Homo sapiens: one gene and its partner. The protein of the gene in region 1 interacts with the protein of each later gene in a pairwise test. Each region holds a gene or a part of one and is shown in the gene's direction. Other genes may lie near its edges.

The links. The genes of interacting proteins can lie anywhere in the genome.
Region 2: the proteins of CRYAA (region 1) and NOD1 interact in binary tests that used the Homo sapiens proteins (3 or more experiments, as listed by UniProt).

The regions. Positions count from the first base shown.
Region 1 is NC_000021.9:43,167,650-43,171,807, forward strand, and holds the start of CRYAA (alpha-crystallin A chain), read left to right. Parts: upstream 1-1,358; 5' UTR 1,359-1,450; coding exon 1,451-1,639; intron 1,640-2,586; exon of another isoform or gene 2,587-2,682; coding exon of another isoform or gene 2,683-2,760; intron 2,761-2,867; coding exon 2,868-2,990; intron 2,991-3,387; exon of another isoform or gene 3,388-3,933; intron 3,934-4,158. UniProt on the Homo sapiens protein: Contributes to the transparency and refractive index of the lens. In its oxidized form (absence of intramolecular disulfide bond), acts as a chaperone, preventing aggregation of various proteins under a wide range of stress conditions.
Region 2 is NC_000007.14:30,447,785-30,451,284, reverse strand, and holds part of NOD1 (nucleotide-binding oligomerization domain-containing protein 1), read left to right. Parts: coding exon 1-69; intron 70-208; exon of another isoform or gene 209-367; intron 368-2,903; coding exon 2,904-2,987; exon of another isoform or gene 2,988-2,993; intron 2,994-3,500. UniProt on the Homo sapiens protein: Pattern recognition receptor (PRR) that detects bacterial peptidoglycan fragments and other danger signals and thus participates in both innate and adaptive immune responses.

The DNA.
Region 1 (4,158 bases):
CAGTTTACCAAAATATCAAAATACCAAAATATCAAAAGACTTAAAACTAGGAGTGAGCCAGGTGCAGTGGCTCACGCCTGTAATCCTACACTTTGAGAGGCCAAGGCAGGTGGGTCACCTGAGGTCAAGAGTTTGAGACCAGCCTGGCCAACACGGTGAAACCCTGTCTCTACTAAAAATACAAAAATAATAATAATAATAATAATAATAATAATTAGCCAGGTGTGGTGGCAGGCACCTGCAGTCTCAGCTACTCAGGAGGCTGAGGTGGGAGAATTGTTTGAACCTGGGAGGCAGAGGTTGCAGTGAGCTGAGATCGCGCCACTATATGATCTGGGCGCCACTCTGGGTGACACAGCAAGACTCCATCTCAAAAACAAACAAACAAAACCGGGAGTGCCTGGACACTTAGTGAGAACTGGACAGGGGCCATGGGTCGAGGAGCAAAATAATCACCAGGACTTGTGGATAACAGGATCATGTGGGTGGTGGGTCCGCATGGGTGACAGGGACGTGGGGACATGTCGCCACCCTGACAGGAGCAGCCCAACTCAACAGCCACGGCAGGTCATGCCACGGAGGCTCGAGGCGTTACGTGGGGATGTTACATCAAGGCATTACATCATTACGAGATGTAACGCTCGAGGCGTTACATCGAGGGGACGATGGCCATGGGGCTGGGCGTCCAGGGTGGGCCGCAGAGGGAAGCTCACCACGTGGTGCTCTCATCTGCCCACAGCCCAGCCCGTCTTCCTGTTGGAGGCATGTGACCCCTGGAGGACAAGCATGAAACGCCATAGGGCTCCCCCAGGTGCTGGAATTATGGCACCTTGCAGCTTCTTCTCCACGAGTTTTAACAAGCATGCGTACTTTTGTAAGTGGTGAGTGTAACGGAGGTTCACAGATGCACTCCGCTTTGGAAACCAGTGCACTCTTGCCCAGGCCCGGTGAGACTCTGAGGACGATGTGTCTAACCTCTGTGTCTAACGGGGGTGTGTGCTCTCCCTCCTCTGGCGACCATGAGGACCACCCCGGCAGGACAAGGTGTGCAGAGAACTAGCATGGTCCCTGGCACGTAGCCCCTGCCCAGTGACTGGCAGATGAGAAGCTCCATTGTCGCCCCAGGCGAGTATGGGGCACAGGCGCCTCCTTGGGTTGTCTGCCCTCCCGGGAGCCCCAGGGTGCCCAGGCGGGCCTCAGCTGAGTCCAGGCCTCGGGGACAGTCCGTGCAGCCCCTCCTGGGGCTGGGGGCGGGCACTTGTCCCAGCCACGTTTCTGCTGACTGAGCAGCCTTCTTCATGAGCTCACGCCTTTCCAGAGAAATCCCTTAATGCCTCCATTCTGCTGGTGGCATATATAGGGAGGGCTCGGCCTTGGCTCCACACTGCGCTGCCCAGAGGCCCCGCTGACTCCTGCCAGCCTCCAGGTCCCCGTGGTACCAAAGCTGAACATGGACGTGACCATCCAGCACCCCTGGTTCAAGCGCACCCTGGGGCCCTTCTACCCCAGCCGGCTGTTCGACCAGTTTTTCGGCGAGGGCCTTTTTGAGTATGACCTGCTGCCCTTCCTGTCGTCCACCATCAGCCCCTACTACCGCCAGTCCCTCTTCCGCACCGTGCTGGACTCCGGCATCTCTGAGGTAAGACGTGGCCCGTGGTGCTGGCCTCTCCTCGCTGCTCAGAGGGTGGTGGCCTCGGTGGGTGGAGAGCGATGGACTCTGGTCTTGCTCCGTCAGGCAGGTGGCCTCGTCCCACTTCATCCCCTTGCAGAGGCTGGGCGAGAGCCTGTGTCCCCACTGCAGCCACGTGGCAGAGCTTCCCCTGGCACTGGGGAGAGGGTGGACAAGGGAGCAGCCTGAATCCACCTTTGCTTTCCTCCATCAGCTCATGACCCATGTGTGCTTTGTAAGGCACCAGCCACATACTGGAAACCCCAAGAGCAGCCCATCCAGGCATGCGTGGTGGCGAATGCCAGCTCCCGGGTTCCTCTGGTCTCCTGAGTCCCGGAGACCTGGGAGCAGGTGGGGGTCATAGTCCTGAAAGCCAGAGAGCAGGGCGTTCCTAGCACCTCCTCCAATGAGCTCGGCCTGCCCACGGCTAGCAAAGCTCTTGGCAAGTTTACTTAGGTGCCCTGCCAAGGCTAAAAGGACAGGCAATGGACGCCCCCCCCCCCACCCAACCACAGGCCTCCTCTCTGAGCCACGGGTGAGCGGTGCAGGTTCTGCTGTTCTGGAGGGCCTGAGTCCCACCCAGCACCTCATAAACAGGGTCCTCCCCAGGGCTGCTGCAGTAGGCATCAACGCCAGGGTGCAAAATGCCTCAGGGAGCCAAGGCTGAGCCAGGGGAGTGAGAAGGAGCATGTGGAAGTGCGTTTTGGAGAGGCAGCTGCGCAGGCTGTCAGCAGGCTCCGGCCGCTTCTATAGACAGCATGACACCAAGGGCAGTGACCTCATTCCACAGGCTGAGTCCAGCCAGCCAGCCAAGCATCACCAGCCAGACGATTGACCCTAACGGACCAACCAACCCGTAACGACCCCTCCTACCATAACCAGTAGCCAGCCAGCCCATAACCAGCCAACTTATCTATAACCAGCCACCTGACCATAGCCAAACAACCAGCCGGCCCACCAGTAGCATTCAGCCCCTCAGCTGGCCCTGAGGGTTTGGAGACAGGTCGAGGGTCATGCCTGTCTGTCCAGGAGACAGTCACAGGCCCCCGAAAGCTCTGCCCCACTTGGTGTGTGGGAGAAGAGGCCGGCAGGTGACCGAAGCATCTCTGTTCTGATAACCGGGACCCGCCCTGTCTCTGCCAACCCCAGCAGGGACGGCACCCTCTGGGCAGCTCCACATGGCACGTTTGGATTTCAGGTTCGATCCGACCGGGACAAGTTCGTCATCTTCCTCGATGTGAAGCACTTCTCCCCGGAGGACCTCACCGTGAAGGTGCAGGACGACTTTGTGGAGATCCACGGAAAGCACAACGAGCGCCAGGTGAGCCCAGGCACTGAGAGGTGGGAGAGGGGGGCGAGTTGGGCGCGAGGACAAGGGGGTCACGGCGGGCACGACCGGGCCTGCACACCTGCACCATGCCTTCAACCCTGGGAGAGGGACGCTCTCCAGGGGACCCCGAATCAGGCCTGGCTTTTCCCCAAGGGAGGGGCCGTGCCCACCTGAGCACAGCCAGCCCCTCCCGGTGACAGAGGTCACCATTCCCGAGCTAATGTGGCTCAGGGATCCAGGTTAGGGTCCCTTCCCGGGCTGCACCCAGCCGTCGCCAGCTCCATCCCTGTCACCTGGATGCCAGGGTGGTCTTAGAAAGAACCCCAGGAAGTGGGAGTGCCCCGGGTGGCCGCCTCCTAGCCAGTGTACATCTTCACATGAACCCTACCTGAGGAAGCCAGTCCCCGACGGCATAGCTGCATCCGCTTGGAATGCTTTACAGGCATTGACACCTTCGCCTCACAGCAGCACTTTGGAACCAGTGTCCTCATTATTCCAGGGCACGGCTGGGGAACAAGGGGGTCCTCAGCCTGCTGGGTCCCACAGCTAGTACCGGGCAGGTGGACGGGAGCTTCTCCCCACAGTCACCCTGATGCCCCGCTCTTGCTCGGCTGGAGGCCTCGGATCTCCGTGGTGTTGAGGGAGCCGGGGCACTGGAGCCCTGGTGACCTGCATCTCCTGGCGGAGCCGGGAAGAGCTCATGGACTGTCACAGATGGACAGTGCCCCGCGGGGGCTGGAGAGCAGAGTGGGGCTGGAAGGTGGAACTCTTAGCCAAAGTCTTGGTTTCTTTTGGCCAGGGTCCTCTTTCAATGGCTGGAGAAGGTGGTGCTGGGGGGTGAACGCTGACCTCCTCATGTGCTGCCCCTCCCTCGCCTGGGCCCGGTAAAGCCCCCACGTAGCCCCAGCCAGCCTGGAACATGCTTCCTGAGCTCCCAGCTCTTGGTCTTTGCACCCAGTGGAGGAGGAGGTCAGCCCAGGGAGCTGAGTCTGCGGTTTAGGGCGTCCAGGGGACGTGGAAGCATGTGGGTCGTCTGGCCACATTAGGTAGGGCTGCAGAGACCTGGGCTAGAGCAGTCCTGCGGGGTCTGGAAGGGGAAGACTGGCTGAGGTGCGGGGCCTGGTCTGGAATGATCCTGCGATTTTGGAGTGAAGCCATG
Region 2 (3,500 bases), on another chromosome or scaffold:
CAACAACAATCTCAACGACTACGGCGTGCGGGAGCTGCAGCCCTGCTTCAGCCGCCTCACTGTTCTCAGGTGAGGCTGCCAGGCAAGGGGAGCAACAGGTGGGCCGGGCGGGCCAGGCTCGGAGGGCATCGGGAATGGCATCATGGACCAGGATCCCCCAGGACTCATGACCATGGCCCTTGGAATGTCCAGACCTTTTCTTTCTTAGCAGGGCAGAGGTCAAGGTGCAAAGCTTCGAGGCAGGTGGACCTGGATCAGCCACAGCTGGGTGCCCTTGAACAAAGTGCTTAACTCTCAGAGCCTCCACGCCCTCATCTGGAAAAAGAAGATGCTCATAATCCTATCAATTATGGCCACAGGGACCAATGTTAGTTGAGAATGGGTGAAGTGCATTACAAATATTACCTAATGGAATGCTCTTTACAACCCTGTAACTTAGGTACTGTTATTGTCTCTATTTTGGCAGATAAGGAAGTAGAGGCACAGAGAAGTTAATAGCTTGCTTTAGGTCACACAGCTCAGACATAGCAGTGCCAGAATGCATAAAGAACCTTCCTTTTAAGATTAATGTAAGGCTCCGAGATAGCCCTCAAAAAGTTTCTGGAATATGGGAGCTTTTATTACTGCAGAGAAAGCAGACCTTGTGCCAGTTGGCACTGGTGACTTTCTGTGATCAACGCTAGCAGCCCTTCACACTGCTAGAGACCTCAGTTAAAATGCTGACTCGTGGTTGTTTTCCTGTTCCATAGTTTACGGGAAACAGAGCCCAGTCTGTTTTCTTCTATTAGCATTTCCTATGTAAAATAAACCTTGTAAATCTCTACAGGGGGTTAAATTTGCCATTACTTGACTCATGCATTTCTAAAAAGCAGTAGGGATTTGGAACTGACTCCCAGTGCCTGTCACACCAGTGTCAGAGTGTAAATAATTGCATGGGGACATGGGGTGCAGGGGGTCGAAGGCTGCCCTAGCCTGGGAATTGGAAAACCTGGAGTCTGTTCTCTGTACTCTCAGCCAGTGACTCTCCCTCTGTAGCCCCAGGCAGTCTCACACTCAGTGCCACCCTCTGTCCATCTTTTTTTTTTCTCCCCCAAATGGAGTCCCGCTCTGTTGCCCAGGCTGGAGTGCAGTGGCGTGATCTCAGCTCACTGCAACCTCCGCCTCCTGGGTTCAAGCGATTCTCTTGCCCCAGCCTCCTGAGTAGCTGGGATTACAGGCACACGCCACCATGTCCGGCTAAGTTTTTTGTATTTTTAGTAGGACGGGGTTTCCCCATGTTGGCCAGGCTGGTCTTGAAATCCTGACCTCAGGTGATCCGCCCGCCTCGGCCTTCCAAAATGTTGGGGTTACAGGCATGAGCCGCCGCACCCGACCCCTCTGTCCATCTTTTCAATGGGAAACTCCACACCAGTGTGGTGGCCCTGCCCTTCCTGCTGTCCCCAGGTGAAGCTTTCCTTCACACCAGTGCAAGAAAAAACAGCTTGTAGGAAAGCAGAGGATATGGGTAACCACGGGAAGCACACTCAGTTCTCTGGCTGCATCAGTTAGGATTAGTTTTAGCTGAGAGCGAAAACCCCAAATGTTGGTGAGTTACAAGCTTATTTCTCTCATGTAAAAGTCTAGAGGTAGGTAGTTCAGGACTGGTATGGAGTCTCCATGACCCTCCGGAGCCCAGGCTCTCTTCTGCCTTCCTGTTCTGCCATCCTCACTACCCGGCTTTCCCATCTTGGCCCAAGAGGGCTGCTCAAACTCCAGCCATCTAGTCGACACTCTAGCTATCAGTAAGAAGGAAGGGCAAAGATTGAGAGCATGCCTCAATCTTTTAAGAACACTTCTTGGCTATTACTAATTATATTGCTGCTTAGATTTCAGAACTTAATGGTATGGGCAGAATTTAATGAGATGGGCCCAGCTAAAAGATGGGGGAATCTATTGCTAAGAAAGTATAGATATTGGGAATGTCTAGCAGCCTGTGCTGTCTTGGGCTGGCCATGCCATGTACATACACACTATTTCCCAGCACCAAGCTGGGGACTCTGAGGGAAAGGGTCCAGAGTGTCTGACTTGATCATTTTGATGTGGCCTAAAAATCAAGCTTTTAATTGTTCAGCCTTTTACTTGTTATCAAGGTCAGCTTGTGGGTCTAATTGGGCCCAAGGCTTGTGTTTCTAAGTAAAGTTTTATTGGAACGCAGCCATACCCATTTATTTACTTACTGGCTGCTTCACACTACACAGTTGAGTAGCTGTGACAGAGACCACATGGCCCACAGAGCCTAAAATATTTGCTGTCTGACACTTTACAGAATGACATGAGCAGTCTCCTTTGACAGTGGGACTCACAGCCTTTTCCAGTGACAAATCAGGGTTAGCCCATGTGTTTCTGGATGGGGGGAAGCTGTTGGCATTTTGGGTATAACAGTTCTTGTGAGACCTGTCCAGCATTTTGCAGGACACCTAACATCATTGGCCCTGCCTGCAAGATGACAGGGCACTCCCTCCTCCAGTCACAACCACTAAAAGCAGCCCCTGACATTTCCAAACCCATGCCCTCCACCATACGAGAACCAGGTACAGGGTCTGGCTGACACATAGGTCACACGCAAAGGGTGGATGTCAGAGGTGGCTGGCCTCACACGTCCTCCCTGTGTCCTTCACGGTCGTGTGAGGAGCCAGGGGCTGTGCTGCAGCCTCGCTCATGGGCTGGTGCAGGATGGGTCTGGCGGCCCCACGTTGGCCAGGCTTTGTAAGGGGCTATTTGGCTGATTGCTGTGGCCATTCTCCAGGGGCGTCTATACCTGAGAAAACTCCAGGGCCTGAAGGCTTCTGGATCTTTGTAAGATTAATGGTCCTTCATAATGAGTGCCTGCCCTGACTCGTAATTTTTTTGCTGTTTTATTTCAGACTCAGCGTAAACCAGATCACTGACGGTGGGGTAAAGGTGCTAAGCGAAGAGCTGACCAAATACAAAATTGTGACCTATTTGGGGTATGTCTTTCTCCAGAACACTGGGCCAACTACCTAGTAATAATACAGAGCTGCAGGGAATTCACATTCCCATAGGTCCCTGGATGATCGGCACGGATGGCCCAGGGCTGGGAAGAGCGCTGGCCCAGGAGTTGAGAGTCCTGGGTTCTCTTTGTGGCTCGGCCAGTCATGAAGTCTTGCTGAGCCTCAGCCTCCTCACCTGTAAAACTGGGATCCCAGTATAGGCAAGTAGGCTTACAACTGGTTATTGGGGGATGCAACGAGAATATAAGGGGATATATTTAATAAATGCTAGAATCCTGTTTACATATTAGTCTGGACTATTTTGGGTCCATAATCCCTCATCCAGAGCCTTTGGGGCAAGACCCGAATGGGGATTCTGAGTGCATGCTATGGCATGACGTGGCCGCAGGGGTCTAAGGCAGTGCCCCATTTTCAAACACTTTCATATTTCTCCCGCAGAATGTATGAAACAGTCAAACCAAGTGTGGTAAGAAAGACTATAAGTAGCTC